Homo sapiens: one gene and its partners. The protein of the gene in region 3 purifies or fractionates together with the protein of the main gene of each other region. This does not show direct contact. Each region holds a gene or a part of one and is shown on either strand. Other genes may lie near its edges.

Evidence for each region.
Region 1: the proteins of SCML2 (region 3) and BAG1 fractionate together in Homo sapiens (co-fractionation; one large-scale study listed by BioGRID). This does not show direct contact.
Region 2: the proteins of SCML2 (region 3) and CSTA purify together in Homo sapiens (affinity purification with mass spectrometry; one large-scale study listed by BioGRID and IntAct). This does not show direct contact.
Region 4: the proteins of SCML2 (region 3) and DCAF1 purify together in Homo sapiens (affinity purification with mass spectrometry, with the first as the bait; one large-scale study listed by BioGRID). This does not show direct contact.

The regions. Positions count from the first base shown.
Region 1 is NC_000009.12:33,251,813-33,255,236, reverse strand, and holds the end of BAG1 (BAG family molecular chaperone regulator 1), read left to right. Parts: coding exon 1-18; 3' UTR 19-2,766; downstream 2,767-3,424. UniProt on the Homo sapiens protein: Co-chaperone for HSP70 and HSC70 chaperone proteins. Acts as a nucleotide-exchange factor (NEF) promoting the release of ADP from the HSP70 and HSC70 proteins thereby triggering client/substrate protein release.
Region 2 is NC_000003.12:122,327,861-122,332,046, reverse strand, and holds part of CSTA (cystatin-A), read right to left. Parts: intron 1-4,186. UniProt on the Homo sapiens protein: This is an intracellular thiol proteinase inhibitor. Has an important role in desmosome-mediated cell-cell adhesion in the lower levels of the epidermis.
Region 3 is NC_000023.11:18,256,797-18,260,982, reverse strand, and holds part of SCML2 (sex comb on midleg-like protein 2), read left to right. Parts: intron 1-691; coding exon 692-812; intron 813-2,735; coding exon 2,736-2,939; intron 2,940-3,952; coding exon 3,953-4,135; intron 4,136-4,186. UniProt on the Homo sapiens protein: Putative Polycomb group (PcG) protein. PcG proteins act by forming multiprotein complexes, which are required to maintain the transcriptionally repressive state of homeotic genes throughout development.
Region 4 is NC_000003.12:51,419,463-51,423,648, forward strand, and holds part of DCAF1 (DDB1- and CUL4-associated factor 1), read right to left. Parts: intron 2,970-4,186; coding exon 2,845-2,969; intron 1,536-2,844; coding exon 272-1,535; intron 1-271. UniProt on the Homo sapiens protein: Acts both as a substrate recognition component of E3 ubiquitin-protein ligase complexes and as an atypical serine/threonine-protein kinase, playing key roles in various processes such as cell cycle, telomerase regulation and histone modification.

The DNA of each region.
Region 1 (3,424 bases), on a different chromosome or scaffold from region 3:
TTTGCCCTGGCCGAGTGAGGTGTAGCAGAAAAAGGCTGTGCTGCCCTGAAGAATGGCGCCACCAGCTCTGCCGTCTCTGGAGCGGAATTTACCTGATTTCTTCAGGGCTGCTGGGGGCAACTGGCCATTTGCCAATTTTCCTACTCTCACACTGGTTCTCAATGAAAAATAGTGTCTTTGTGATTTTGAGTAAAGCTCCTATCTGTTTTCTCCTTCTGTCTCTGTGGTTGTACTGTCCAGCAATCCACCTTTTCTGGAGAGGGCCACCTCTGCCCAAATTTTCCCAGCTGTTTGGACCTCTGGGTGCTTTCTTTGGGCTGGTGAGAGCTCTAATTTGCCTTGGGCCAGTTTCAGGTTTATAGGCCCCCTCAGTCTTCAGATACATGAGGGCTTCTTTGCTCTTGTGATCGTGTAGTCCCATAGCTGTAAAACCAGAATCACCAGGAGGTTGCACCTAGTCAGGAATATTGGGAATGGCCTAGAACAAGGTGTTTGGCACATAAGTAGACCACTTATCCCTCATTGTGACCTAATTCCAGAGCATCTGGCTGGGTTGTTGGGTTCTAGACTTTGTCCTCACCTCCCAGTGACCCTGACTAGCCACAGGCCATGAGATACCAGGGGGCCGTTCCTTGGATGGAGCCTGTGGTTGATGCAAGGCTTCCTTGTCCCCAAGCAAGTCTTCAGAAGGTTAGAACCCAGTGTTGACTGAGTCTGTGCTTGAAACCAGGCCAGAGCCATGGATTAGGAAGGGCAAAGAGAAGGCACCAGAATGAGTAAAGCAGGCAGGTGGTGAAGCCAACCATAAACTTCTCAGGAGTGACATGTGCTTCCTTCAAAGGCATTTTTGTTAACCATATCCTTCTGAGTTCTATGTTTCCTTCACAGCTGTTCTATCCATTTTGTGGACTGTCCCCCACCCCCACCCCATCATTGTTTTTAAAAAATTAAGGCCTGGCGCAGCAGCTCATGCCTATAATCCCAGCACTTTGGGAGGCTGAGGCGGGCGGATCACTTGAGGCCAGGAGTTTGAGACCAGCCCAGGCAACATAGCAAAACCCCATTCTGCTTTAAAAAAAAAAAAAAAAAAAATTAGCTTGGCGTAGTGGCATGTGCCTATAATCCCAGCTACTGGGGAGGCTGAGGCACAAGAATCATTTGAACCTGGGAGGTAGAGGTTGCTGTGAGCCGAGATTACGCCCCTGCACTCCAGCCTGGGTCACAGAGTGAGACTCCATCTCAGAAAAAAAAAAAATTGAGTCAGGTGCAGTAGCTCCTTCCTGTAGTCCCAGCTACTTGGGAGGCTGAGGCTAGAGGATCACTTGAGCCCAGGAGTTTGAGTCTAGTCTGGGCAACATAGCAAGACCCCATCTCTAAAATTTAAGTAAGTAAAAGTAGATAAATAAAAAGAAAAAAAAACTGTTTATGTGCTCATCATAAAGTAGAAGAGTGGTTTGCTTTTTTTTTTTTTTTTGGATTAATGAGGAAATCATTCTGTGGCTCTAGTCATAATTTATGCTTAATAACATTGATAGTAGCCCTTTGCGCTATAACTCTACCTAAAGACTCACATCATTTGGCAGAGAGAGAGTCGTTGAAGTCCCAGGAATTCAGGACTGGGCAGGTTAAGACCTCAGACAAGGTAGTAGAGGTAGACTTGTGGACAAGGCTCGGGTCCCAGCCCACCGCACCCCAACTTTAATCAGAGTGGTTCACTATTGATCTATTTTTGTGTGATAGCTGTGTGGCGTGGGCCACAACATTTAATGAGAAGTTACTGTGCACCAAACTGCCGAACACCATTCTAAACTATTCATATATATTAGTCATTTAATTCTTACATAACTTGAGAGGTAGACAGATATCCTTATTTTAGAGATGAGGAAACCAAGAGAACTTAGGTCATTAGCGCAAGGTTGTAGAGTAAGCGGCAAAGCCAAGACACAAAGCTGGGTGGTTTGGTTTCAGAGCCAGTGCTTTTCCCCTCTACTGTACTGCCTCTCAACCAACACAGGGTTGCACAGGCCCATTCTCTGATTTTTTTCCTCTTGTCCTCTGCCTCTCCCTCTAGCTCCCACTTCCTCTCTGCTCTAGTTCATTTTCTTTAGAGCAGCCCGAGTGATCATGAAGTGCAAATCTTGCCATGTCAGTCCCCTGCTTAGAACCCTCCAATGGCTCACTTTCTCTTTAGGCAAAAGTCTTTACCCCATGCCTTCTCCCATCTCATCTCAACCCCCTCATTTGTTGGCTGTCTGCTGTCAGCCACTCTTCTTTCAGGTCCTCAGATGCACTGCACCCTCTCCTGCCTGGGGGTCTTTGCTCCTGCTACTACCTCTGCTTGAACAGCTCCTCACCTTCCTTCCTCCAACCCTACCCTTGTATAGGTGACTTTTGTTCATCCTTCAGAATTCAACTCACATGTCTCTTGCATGGAGAACCCTCACCTACTGTGTTGAGACCCTGTCCAGCCCCCAGGTGGGATCCTCTCTCGACTTCCCATACATTTCTTTCACAGCATTTACATAGTCCATGATAGTTTACTTGTGGGATTATTTGGTTAATCTTTGCCTTTAACACCAGGGTTCCTTGGGTGAAGGAGCTTCTTTATCTTGGTAACAGCATTATTTCAAGCATAACTTGTAATATAGTTATATTACATATATAACATATATATATATAACATAACATATATAACATATATAACAAGCATAACTTGTTATATAGTCTTGTATATAGTAAGACCTCAATAAATATTTGGAGAACAAATGAATGTTGAATGCACACATCAATAGTGAAACTTCTATAGCTGCATTTGGCCTCAGAATCTCCGTCAGCATTGGAATTTACAGCCTTAACAGCCTTTATTGTCTTAAGGGTTGAGAAAAGAGGCCCTAATGCATGGACTGCTGGGCAGATGTGATAGGTGATTGCACAGGCCCCACCCACGCAGATCTGCTCACCCAAGGGGTTTCTGCCTGTGAAACTCTTCTCCCGTGAGAAGGGGAGAGAGCACCCCTTCTTCTCCCGTGAGAAGGGGAGAGAGCACCCCTTCTTCTCCCGTGAGAAGGGGAGAGAGCACCCCTTCTTCTCCCGTGAGAAGGGGAGAGAGCACCCCTTCTTCTCCCGTGAGAAGGGGAGAGAGCACCCCTTCTTCTCCCGTGAGAAGGGGAGAGAGCACCCCTTCTTCTCCCGTGAGAAGGGGAGAGAGCACCCCTTCTTCTCCCGTGAGAAGGGGAGAGAGCACCCCTTCTTCTCCCGTGAGAAGGGGAGAGAGCACCCCTTCTTCTCCCGTGAGAAGGGGAGAGAGCACCCCTTCTTCTCCCGTGAGAAGGGGAGAGAGCACCCCTTCTCAGGTGCCCACTTGCCTGGGACATGGTAAGTCTTACCACAGGGAGAACAGATGGGAATGTGTGCTCCCACAAAC
Region 2 (4,186 bases), on a different chromosome or scaffold from region 3:
CCTGTCAGATTAGCGGCAGCATTAGATTCTCATAGGAGTGGGAACCCTATTGTGAACTGCATGCAAAGGATCAAGGTTGCGTGCTCCTTATGAGAAAATAATGCCTGATGATCTGAGGTGGAACAGCTTCATCCCAAAACTATCCCCTCCACCCCATCTGTGGAAAAATTGCCTTCCACAAAGGTACCAAAAAGGTTGGGGACAGCTGGCCTAAGAAGAGTAGGAACTGAGACATCCTGCTGGAGGGACCATGGGGGTGGGAGGCAATGAACAACTGAAGAGAGATTTACATTTGTGGGGTTTCTAGAAAAAGACCAACAAATATGACTGCAAGAATGTTCTGGCAGCCCTGGGTCCTGTCCGGGTTGTTAAGCATTAATCCACAGGTTTGTAATGGTGAGTTTTCTGTGGTTCTGCACCTCGCTTTGGCAAAGTTCTTTGATTCTGGAACAGTAGTAGCTGCATAGAAAGTGGTGGCAGTGGGTGTGACCTTTAATTGAGAATTAGAATGTCAGGAGCTCCCAGGGTCAAGGAAATCATCATGAGTGGAGGAGTATTTGAAGCTACCCTCCTGTCATGGGGTCCAGGCTGGATGAGAGACTCAGTGGGCCTGGGCATGTTCTCATGAAGTTGGGAAGGTAGGTGCCTGAAGGATTCTGGTGTGGCTGAATGACAGGTTCTTTGGGTGTGGGACAGTGGGAGAGGCGACTAATAAGGAGGCTGTGGTCAGAGAGGGGAATGCAAATTTGTGGATGGGGTGAGAGCCATGACATGCTAAGTTCCAGGGTGTGCCCAGGATGGTATGCAGATGAAGTGTTTGTGCGGTGTCCTGACTGACAAAAATCATGTTCTGTGTGTTGGCCAGGAATAGTATTCAGCAATTAGGTTTATGACTAAGGGGAGTGTGTGTGTGTGTGTGTGTGTGTGTGTGTGTGTGTGTGTTTGTTGTGTGCATGCACATTGCATGTATAGTAGCCCTTACCTCTAAAAACAATTAAATAACATTTCTTTCCTTCTCATAAATATGCTCACAATTCTCATCAAAATGCTTATTAACATATTATATAAGATAATGGATCAGCAATAATGATCCGGAGGCTTTTGCTGTTGGGCCATTCATTTATTTGGTTCTTCGTTATACAGATTGTGGCTTTTCATGAATGGGCCTGTGTATGGCTCTGTCTTTCTGGATGTGTCCCTCTTAGCTCCATTCTATTTTATTAATTTCCCAAAGGGCAGGCACTATTTTATGTCCCTGCTACCCCCATAGCAATTCACACAGTTCTGTCTACCTAATCAATGTTTTCTGAATGAAAAGACCACAGTTGTTTTCCATCCTGACAACTTGTCTCCCCAAATAGGAAAGATGAGTATAGCAATGACATCAGCTAATACGGAGAATCTTGGAAGAGGGTTTTCTTCCAAGTGTACTTTAGTACATGGTGCTACAATGACATGTTCAGTCTCTGTTATCTTCAGAATGGGAAAACTCATTTCTCCTGCCTTCAAAAACATTCAAGTTTTCTCAATTGCCATCCCTTGTTTGCCTTTCTTTTCTTTCTGCCCTCATCCAATATTCCTCTTTCACTGTGATATCAAATTCCTTGGTCATGCAGTTATCATTTGTCTTTGACACTCTTCCCTTTTCTATGTGATGATCTTTTTCTTCCTTCTTTCTCTCCTTCTAATGGGGTTCTTCAGTTGGCCTTCCACTAAGAAGCTCTCTGAGAAGTCCAAGGAAAGCTGATAAACTTCAGCTCCTCTGAGAATACTTCCACTTTAACAGGTGATTTTAAAAAACAGAGATACATTCAAAAATAAAAAATAATAAAACTAGCAAGTAAGTGACAGGTAGTGGAGATTGTCCCTAAATTACTAGCATCTATCCATTTTCCCTATTCCTGCATGGGGACCTAACTGTAATTTTGGAGAAGGAATTGACTCAAGTTTCTCACCTATAAAGCGGTTATAATAATACCTGCCTCTTGGGGCTGTTTGTAGGGGCATAAATGATATAATTGACGTGAAAGTGCTTCCTAAACTACAAAGAGTTTTCCAACTCTTCCTCTACCTTCTAACACTGAATTGGAAATTGTGCCCTAAGGCTCACTCCTGCAAGAGAGGGCAGATAAGTGATAATTGGGGCTTTAACACCAGAGGAGCTGAACTGCCTCACAGTAATTATTCACCTGAAAGGAAGGAGGTTTGACCAGCAATCTCTAACATCTTTTCTGGTCCAAAACCTGTGATTATAAAAAAAGCACTTAATTGGATATTGTTTTATATTATGTTCCAGATATCTCGATTTTCCCAACTACCCTGTAAACTCCTAGAGGCCAGGGGCCATATCTTATAGACCTCATGTAGCTTCTATAATAATTAGCATAATGCTAGACACCTAGGAGATATACAAGAAATGCACCTACTATGAAATGATTCAGTGATATTCATTTCCTGTATTTATTTATTTATTTATTTTTTGAAACAGAGTCTCGCTTTGTTGGCCAGGCTGGAGTGCAGTGGCGTGATCATGGCTCACTGCATCCTCAACTTCCTGAGTGCAAGTGATTCTCTCACCTAAGCCTCCCAAGTAGCTGGGACTACAGGCGTGTACTACCTGGCTATTTTTTTGTATTTTGGAGGGGGTAGAGACAGGGTTTTGTCATGATGCCCTTGAACCACCCAGATCAAGCAATCTGCCCGCTTCTGCCTTCTAAAGTGCTGGGATTACAGCCGAGAGCCACCGCACCAGTCCTTCTAAGGAGTAAAAAATTTTATTTTGGCTGGGCGCGGTGGCTCACGCCTGTAATCCCAGCACTTTGGGAGGCCAAGGCGGGTGGATCATGAGGTCAGGAGATCGAGACCATCCTGGCTAACATGGTGAAACCCCGTCTCTACTAAAAAATACAAAAAATTAGCCAGGCATGGTGGCGGGCGCCTGTAGTCCCACCTACTCGGGGGGCTGAGGCAGGAGAATGGCGTGAACCCGGGAGGCGGAGCTTGCAGTGAGCCGAGACCGTGCCACCGCACTCCAGCCTGGGCGACAGAGCGAGATTCCGTCAAAAAAAAAATTAAATTTTAAATTTTTAATTTTTTTTTACTTTTTGAAATGGAGTCTCGCTCTGTCATCCAGGCTGGAGTGCAGTGGCACAGTCTCGGCTCACTCCAACCTCCACCTCCTGAGCTCAAGCAATTCTCCTGCCTCAGCCTCCTGAGTAGCTGGGACTACAGGCGCCCGTCACCACGCCCAGCTAATTTTCTAGTTTTAGTAGAAAACTAGAAAGTAGAAAGCTATGTTGGCCAGGCTGGTCTTGAACTCTTGACCTCAGGTGATCCGCCTGCCTTGGCCTCCTATATGGACTTAACTGTGAGGCTGGTGCTTCCACTGAGAAGACAAACTTACCACACTCTCTCCATTCAGTGTATTTCCGTTTCCTAACAAAGCTCCTCTGTGTTCTGCCACTGTGTGGTAGAGAGGGCAGGCAGTCAAACACTGGGGGTGAGCTAACTTCTTAACTAGGTGACTCTTTTTTTTTTTTTTTTTTTTGAGATGGAATCTTGTTCTGTGGCCCAGGCTGGAGTGCAATGTCATGATCTTGGCTCACTGTGGCCTCCGCCTCCCGGGTTCAAGTGATTCTCCTGCCTCAGCCTCTGGGTAGCTGGGATTACAGGCACCTGCCACCACGCCGGGCTAATTTTTGTATTTTTAGTAGAGACAGGGTTTCACCATGTTGGCCAGGCTGGTCTCGAACTCCTGACCTCATGTGATCTGCCCGCCTCAGCCTTCCAAAGTGCTGGGATTACAGGCTTGAGCCACCATGCCCAGTTTAATTAAGTGACTCTTAATCTCTTTGAATCTTGGTTTCATCATCTGCAAGATAGACACAATATCTTCCCTGCCTGCTCCAGGGGTTATGAAGATGAAATCAGAGCTCGAATGGAGGTCAAGCTTTTAAAAACTGCAAAACCCCTTTCTGGGGTGAGGTAGCTGTTCTTAATACTTATCTCTCATTCTACCTCTCTGATGACATTGGAGCCAAAGGGAAGCAGCTTCCTCCCTGCCACACACACACTTTCAAATTAATTTTATAATTTAAGATGGGGCTCACAGATAGGTGTTATTAGCAATGCAAGGCCTTCTGGTAGCTTCTTATTTTAAAAATTAATAATTCTTGCTAATCGAGTG
Region 3 (4,186 bases):
CTATGCACAGGAGTCCCTTCTCTTATATTGGAGAGTCATGTTTGAAGGTAGCTCCTGGAAAACCCCAAGAGTTGATGTAAAATAAACAAAATGCTAGTGAAGTTTAACAATGCTCAGGAAACATTGGTTCTTATAGGCAGTAGGCATAATTTTGTATAGACTTTAGCAAGCCATCTGTTGTGATTTTGTCAGAATTATTGTATGTAATATGGAGAACTGTGGGTTAGACACAGCGAAGACTAACTAGATGAGCAACTTCTTTCTGAAAATAAACTCTGTCCTCTGCCTTGCTGAGATTTTTTTTCTATTGGAGGTATTGCTCTGGGTTAGAGATTTACAGACTTTTCTTTAGCAATGTGAAAAAACTTGTCTTACAGGGAACCTCAAAAAATAAAGTATGTTTTATGGAATAATCTAATTTGGCTAAGGTGTGATTAGTTGGAGCAGGGGTAGGACAGGGAATCCCAGCCATTTGGTCTCTTTCTCCCCTACCTGGACAGTTTGTGGTCCTCTGAGAAGCTCAGTTTGGAAAGTTCTGCAGTTCATGACACACACGGGAGTTTCCAACCTGAGGACTTCTGATAACTAATAATTTTATAAACCAATGATATTTATAATTTCTGACTTTCTTATCTAAGAATATATTAATGAGTATTGTATACTTGTGTTTTTTTCCCTTTGTTTTTAACAGGAAAAACCTTTGCCCGTGATATGTTCTACATCTGCAGCTTCTCTAAAATCGCTGACCAGAGACCGTGGCATGTTATATAAAGATGTCGCTTCTGGGCCATGTAAAATAGTGATGTCTACAGGTAAATTCATATTTTAAAAATAGTATAGAATTACTAATCTTTTATCCTGTATTATTTTCAGTGTCTTCGAAGTCCTGGAAATAAAATAATAAGGGAAAAAGATGGTAATATTAAACATTTATCTTTGCATTTTTCATATTAAAGTATTTTGAAATTCTGATTGTTCCATTTTACATTAAGGAAAAAGTCTTTAAATACATGAGTCACTTGAAAATTCAGATACTCTTAAAGTATTTTATCCATTTAAGTAAGATTTATGCAATTTACATTGTCCAATCTATTCTTGTTTTCCCTTTATCTCATTTCAAAATTTGTCTTTTTGTATGGTATGTATTTTCAAAGCTGCCTCAAACCTTTTCTTAATGCCTTTTAAAAATTATCTCCCTTACACTCTCCTATTCCCTGGACTTTTTTTTCCTTTTAATTTTTCTTTCCTGACTAAAAGTAAATTTAGTTTTTTAAAAATAGAAGTCACTTTAAAAATGATTGTTGTAACATATCTCATTTTTTTCAGTTTATTATTTCTGATTTTTAATTAGCAGGAAAGACTAGCTAAATGGATATAACACAAAGGAGATAAAACATTGAAATCCTTGTTTAGCTTCGCTTGTGTTCAGTAGAATTTGTCCATGTCATCAGCACCGTGGGTTGAATTTTTAATAGCTATTTCATTTCTGAAGGATAACAGTCCTTCCTCTGGCTGTTGCCACAAAATTGAATTGTATATTTCAACAGAGCAAAACTGAGATTGATCAGTTTTCTTATACTAAATATAGACTATGTGTGTGTGAAAGTTTTGCAATATTAATTAATGGATTAAAAATAACATGCTTCTTAGGGGGACAATTTATTTTATTTTTGGTAGTGATGTGCCCTCATGTTTTGTTTCTTTGTTGTTTTTTTTTTTTTTGAGACAGTCTCACTTCATCACCCAGGCTGGAGTGCAGTGGCGTGATCTTGGCTAAATGCAACCTCTGCCTCCCGGGTTCAAGTGATTCTTCTGCCTCGCCTCCCAAGTATCTGGGACTACAGGCATGTGCCACCACACCCAGATAATTTTTGTATTTTTAGTAGAGATGGGGTTTCACTATGTTGGCCAGGCTGGTCTCAAACTCTTGACCTGAGTTGATCCGCCCACCTTGGCCTCCCAAAGTGCTGGGATTACAGGCGTGACCAACTGCGCCCAGCTTCCCTCATGTTTTTATAGTGTATATTGATTTGCATTTGTTGATTCTCAGTAAAGAAAATTATTGGAAGTTGGCATTTATGTGATTATAGATGAATTGCTTCTATATCATATGCTTTTATTATACTAAGGAAAGAGTTTATTTTAAAATTTTCTTCCATGAATCTTGGTATATATAGAAGGAACATTTTTATTTTCCTAAAATTAATAAAATATTAATATATATCAATATAACTTGTTATATATATCTTAAATTGTTTGGTTACTTTAGAAAATATAATTGAGGTGCAGTATTGGTGATTTAAAATAAATTCAGTCCAAAAAAGAGCATAGCAAGATGACCCGTTTTGAAAGGAAATTCTTGTACTGTGTATACAATTAAAAGATGAAAATATTCATCTGTCTTTGTGCCATTTTATATAATGTGGGAATGTATGAAGAATTGTTTTTGTGATGTGCCTAAAATGTCTGTAGATTTTATATCATCAGTTTGGACAAGATTCTAAAAAATTGAATAAACATTTTGATTGTTTCTTTGTGGGTTCAGTGTCTTTGCATCAATGTAAAAATATATTTACATATTTTTAGGTAGCAGAAATGATCATTGATATTAACTATATTTAGGTTTTCTGTGAGTGAAGTGGATAGTGGGATATAGTAATTGATTATGTAGTGTTTTCACAAAATTTCTTTTAATCAGTCTCATTGTTATGTATGCATACGCATTTTTTCTCAAGTCTGTGTCTATGTAAACAAACATGGAAACTTTGGCCCTCATCTGGATCCCAAGAGAATCCAGCAGCTGCCTGACCACTTCGGCCCGGGCCCGGTGAATGTGGTGCTTCGCCGGATTGTGCAGGCCTGTGTGGATTGTGCCCTTGAAACTAAAACTGTTTTTGGATACCTGAAGCCAGATAATCGTGGAGGAGAAGTGATAACTGGTATACTTATCTAATACATTGTCTAATTCAGTCCCTTCCCCCTTCCCTTCCCCCTTCCCTTCCCCCTTCCCTTCCCCCTTCCCTTTCCTCTCCCCTTCCCCTTTCCCCTCCCCTTCCCCCTCCCCCGCCCTTTCTTCTTTCTTCCTTCATCTTTTTAGAACAGGGTCTCACTCTGTCACCCAGGCTGGAGTGCAGTGGTGTGATCTTGGCTCACTGCAGCCTCCACCTCCCAGGTTCAAGCGATTCTCCCACCTTAGCCTCCTGAGTAGCTGGGATTATAGGCATGCGCCATCATGCCTGGCTAACTTTTGTATTTTTAGTAGAGACAGGGTTTTGCCATGTTGCCCAGGCTAGTCGTGAACTCCTGGCCTCATGTGATCTGCCCACCTTGGCCTCGCAGAATGCTGGGATTACAGGTGTGAGCCACCGCACCTAGCCTGTAATATTTATTATATTAGTATAATAGAACATTTATAGGAGTTATATGTTTATAGACTTTAAGCCCTGGTTTGAAAAGTTTACTTTTAAAATGGACAAATGATGTCAGAATAATGTAAATTGGGACAAAAGTCACAGATTCTTCGTTTTACATGCTGTGTTAAGCTCACTATAGGCAGAGTACCTTGGCTGATAATATATTTTATCTATAAGAAGCTCTAAATAAATATGTGACTCAAGAAGTCACTAAGCAATAAGATAGTGTTGGTGGCTATGATCAGACACCACAACATTCATACCCATGGAATATTTGGAATAGAAGGAAGTGTTACATAGATCAGTGAGTTTCTGTTGTTGTTGTTGACTTAAGAGTATTTTCAAATGAGGATGTTTTTACCAATACAGGCTATTGTGTTTGAGAGGAGCTTTTATAATATAAGATCATTCCTTTATGAATTACAAAGAACACAAATTAGACTTATAATACCTTTCCTAAGGTGATAGTTTTTTTTTTAATTAGTGTTGTATTTCTCATCTCTCTGAGGTTACTGACATCCTTTTTTTTCCCCCAATAGCCTCCTTTGATGGGGAAACTCATTCCATCCAGCTCCCTCCAGTGAACAGTGCATCATTTGCTCTTCGCTTTCTTGAGAACTTCTGCCACAGTCTGCAGTGTGATAACCTTTTGAGTAGCCAGCCTTTTAGTTCTTCCAGGGGTCATACTCACAGCTCTGCAGAGCATGATAAAAATCAGTCAGGTGAGAGAAAATGTAAACTCTTACACTTCTGTTTCACTTGAGAATCTTGTG
Region 4 (4,186 bases), on a different chromosome or scaffold from region 3:
GGGAGCCTCCTTATGGACAGTAGTAATGAGGGGGTGTGGGTTCTAGAAAACATACTAGTTGAGATGAGAACACAAACGATTATATCAATATACTGCCAACAATCACACAAGGAACCCATGGTTGACAAAAGGTGGTACAATTACATTGTTCAAGTATTACACAAAGTAACAATCAGTGGTATTTCAGGACAACTATGCTGATACTGCCCAGTTTGATTTAAATAAAAGAATCATTCCAATTCCCAGGGAGTAAGAAGGGGCCTCTTCTTACCTGCTAAAGATAAGGTGCCTATCAAAGCATCCGCCATCCACCCCTCCATACTTTGGAAATGATGCCCTGCGGTTTAGCCTTGACGTAAAGTTTATTGGCGCTTGCCGCCTCTGTTTTGGCTCAGGACATTGGTGAGGAGTAAAGAGGGAGAAAGGTGGGCAGGTGGCAACTGGATTCTTGCAGCGAGCATGTTGTTCTCTAAGATACTCTGTGATTATACTGTCCAGCGTAGGTGGGGAAGGAAGATGTCTGTCCAGCTGTTTTTTTATGGCTGGGCTTTGGCTGTAGGCACCATGGTCCGACTTCTGCCGCAACACTCTGATTTTCCTGCCATTGCAGGGTGATGGCCTCTCTCTGATAAAACTGATTCTACCAATCAAAGGGGAGTTGCCTGCATAAGATGGGCCGGGCAGAGCTAGCGGACCCTGGGGGGGCCGTGGCTGAGGATGAGCAGTAGGGGCAGAAGGCGCAGAGGCACCCACAGCAGCATGGCTGCCCAGACGAGTTGCAATGCCATTAGCGATACGAGGGGTTCGGGGTAGAGAGACAGGAGAAGCAGCAGCAGTGACTGGGGTAAAGGCAGAAGAATGGGAGGCAGCAGTCATGGGCAGGTCAGCCTCTTTTGTCAGCACGGTTGCTGTTTCTCCAAGCCCTTTAGAAATAAGATGGTTTCGTATCAACAAAAGCAGCTCTTTCTCAGGGAAGGAGATCCTTGACTGGGCAACAACATCTGCTTTCTGCAGTCGTGCTAGGGAAACATCAGTGCCAATGAGAAGTGGTTTTCCTGACACCCGTTCAATGAGTTCAGCAGCATACTTGCAGAACTTGACATGGTCACTGCGCTTGTCCTGCAGCACAGGCTCCTTCATCAGCTGCTGGATCTGGCAGCTGCTGAAAAGGGGCAGTTTACTGATGATCTGCCGGACAGTGCTACTGCGAGACAGGCCCACTAGGGCTTTGCAGGCCAGGGCCCGGATTTGGTCTGCATCTGTGATGGGCATCTTAATGGACAGTAAGGACAGGAGCACCTTGATGCCGTTGTTGGACTGAACCACATTCCACATCTTGGCCAGGGTGTGCTCACTGCTTTTAGGGTTCTGAGGCAGCTTTCTCCGAGGAGTACCAGAGATAAATTTACCAATACTGGATATTCGGTTATCTGGGCCACACACACAATTGATGATAATCTGAAGTGCTGACTTCTGAATTTCAGCATCATGGATGAAGAACTCACCCTCAGCCACTCCCAAAATAATGCTGATACCTAATGGGAAAAAAAATTATGTATTATTCACCATAAAACTAATGGCCAACTTCAATAGTTGTTCCAGAGTCAAAATTTGGTGTTCTACTCACTTTTACTTTAAAAAACTATATTACTTTTGTAAAAACTGCAAGGGTTTGTATAAAGTGCAGACAGTTCTACTACAATGTATTTTTATGGTATCTCATATGCAGTTATTAAATAGGGAAATCATGTCATAATTATGGAAAAGTAATCAAGGTTCATGTGCAATTTTTTCTGGTTTTATTATTTTTTTGAGGCAGAGTCTCGCTCTGTCGCCCAAGCTGGAGTGCAGTGGCGTGATCTTGGCTCACTGCAACCTCCGCCTCCCGAGTTCAAGTGATTCTCCTGCCTCATCCCTGCAAAGAGCTGGGATTACAGGCGCCTGTCACCACGCCCAGCTAATTTTTGTATTTTTAGTAGAGGTGGGGTTTCACCATGTTGGCCAGTCTGGTCTGGAACTCCTGACCTCAGGTGATCCACCCGCCTCGGCCTCCCAAAGTTTTGGGATTACAGGTGTGAGCCACTGTGCTCGACCTTTTCTGGTTTATTAATTTTAATACACTAAAACCTTAGGAACGGAGAAAGCCCTCGGTTGGGCTGCTACTGTGGAAGCAGAACCCTTTCCACTCTATTTTAAGAAAATTAAAAACCAAGTGCCTGTGTCTTAGTCCTATCCTGCATCTTGTCCCATCACACGACTTCCCATGCTCACCCCAGCAGTGCCCTGATCAGCCTTGCTCTTAATAAAGTATATTATCAAAGTATATTTTCCTTTTTTTATATATGTATGACGGTTTCTACCCATTTTGAGCTACCTGCCAATTACTGACTCAGGTTACAAAACTGCTTACTTTGTTGTTTTTTTTTCCCTTTAACTCCTGGAAAGCTGTGATGCTTAAGTTTTTTACTATCTGCCTCAACCCATTTTTCCCATGAACTTTATTTTTAGTGCAAGACTCTTCAGAGTGTGAGCTTTTCAGGAAAGCTATAATATACCATTATAGCAGAAATGCCAGTACCACTCAGAAAACCTGAGTTTACTAGCATGACTCCCTTACATCAAACTATCTGGTCCTACATTTGTATTTTTGTTTTTTGGTTTTTTTTTTTAAATTAGTTCCTGATCTGCTGAATGGTACTCCTTATAAAGGACAGACAAGGAGCCCCCCTCTACTACTTCTGTTCTAAAATCCAAAATTAGGTCAGGTAAGTAACCAAGACCAGAGTGGCAAAGAAAAAACAAATCCAGACCAAGAAACAACAAAAATGGCAAAGTACAACCTACCTACAGTAGAGACTGTAGATCCAGCCTCATCCAACACGTCCACTGATTCTGCCAACTGGAGCTGGATTTTTGGCACCACAGTAAGAATAGCCAGGACATCCAAAGCAAAGCGCACAGTGTCATTCCTGGACAGGAAGAATTAGTCAAAGGGAAATTAGAGTATAGCCACAAGAATCAAGAGAGACAGAGAGAGAGACACACAGACAGATAGACACATACACACAGAGACAATAAATCAGAAGCACTACCAGTGTGGCTCTATCTCAAGCTGTCGCATCAAGAGAGGATTTTATAGTCACCATGACATTACTTCCAAAAAATATAGCAATGGAATTTTTACCTATTAAACTTCTATGATAAAAAACATAGAATAATCCTGAATCCTTTCATCCTAGTGAAAACATATAGAGACACGTACTCTCAAAGTTTTGGTGAGAGTAGAAATTAGTACACTCTTTCCAGAAAGTAATCTGGAGGCCAGGCACGGTGGCTCAAGCCTATAATCCCAACACTTTAGGAGGCCAAGGTGGGAGGATCACTTGAACCCAGGAGTTTGAGACCAGAATGGGCAACATGGTTTTATCTTTTTCTATAAAAAAAAAATATAAGATATTAGCCGGGTGTGGTAGCACGTGCCTGTAGTCCCAGCTTCTCAGGAGGCTGAGGTGGGAGGATCACCTATGCCCAGGAAGTTGAGGCTGTGGTGAGCCGTGATTACACCACTGCACTCCAGTCTGGGCAACAGAGTGAGAGCCTGTCTCGAAAAACAAAAAAAAAGAAAAATGAAAAAAAAGAAGAAAAAGAAAGTAATCTGGAAATATGAAACAAGATTCTTAAAATGTTCATAAACCTTGTCCTAGAAATTTCACCTCTGACAATCTGTCCTAAAGAAATAATCAGGCCAGGGCCAGGCGTGGTCTCATGCCTGTAATCCTAGTGCTTTGGGAGGCTGAGGCGGGCAGATTGCCTGAGCTCAGGAGTTCAAGACTAGCCTGGGCAACATGGCCAAACCCTGTCACTACTAAAATAAAAATTAAAAAAATAAATTACCCAGGCTTAGTGGCGGGCGCCTGTAGTCCCAGCTACTCGGGAGGTTGAGGCAGGAGAATTGCTTGAACCCAGGAGGCGGAAGTTGCAGTGAGCTGAGATTGAGCCACCGCACTCCAGCTCGGGCCACAGAGAGAGACTCTGTCTCCACAAAAAAAAAAAAAGAAAAGAAAAAAGACTCAGGCCGGGTGCAGTGGCTCACGCCGGTAATCACAACAATTTGGGAGGCTGAGGCAGGCGGATGACCTGAGGTCAGGAATTCAAGACCAGCCTGGCCAACATGTTGAAACCCCAT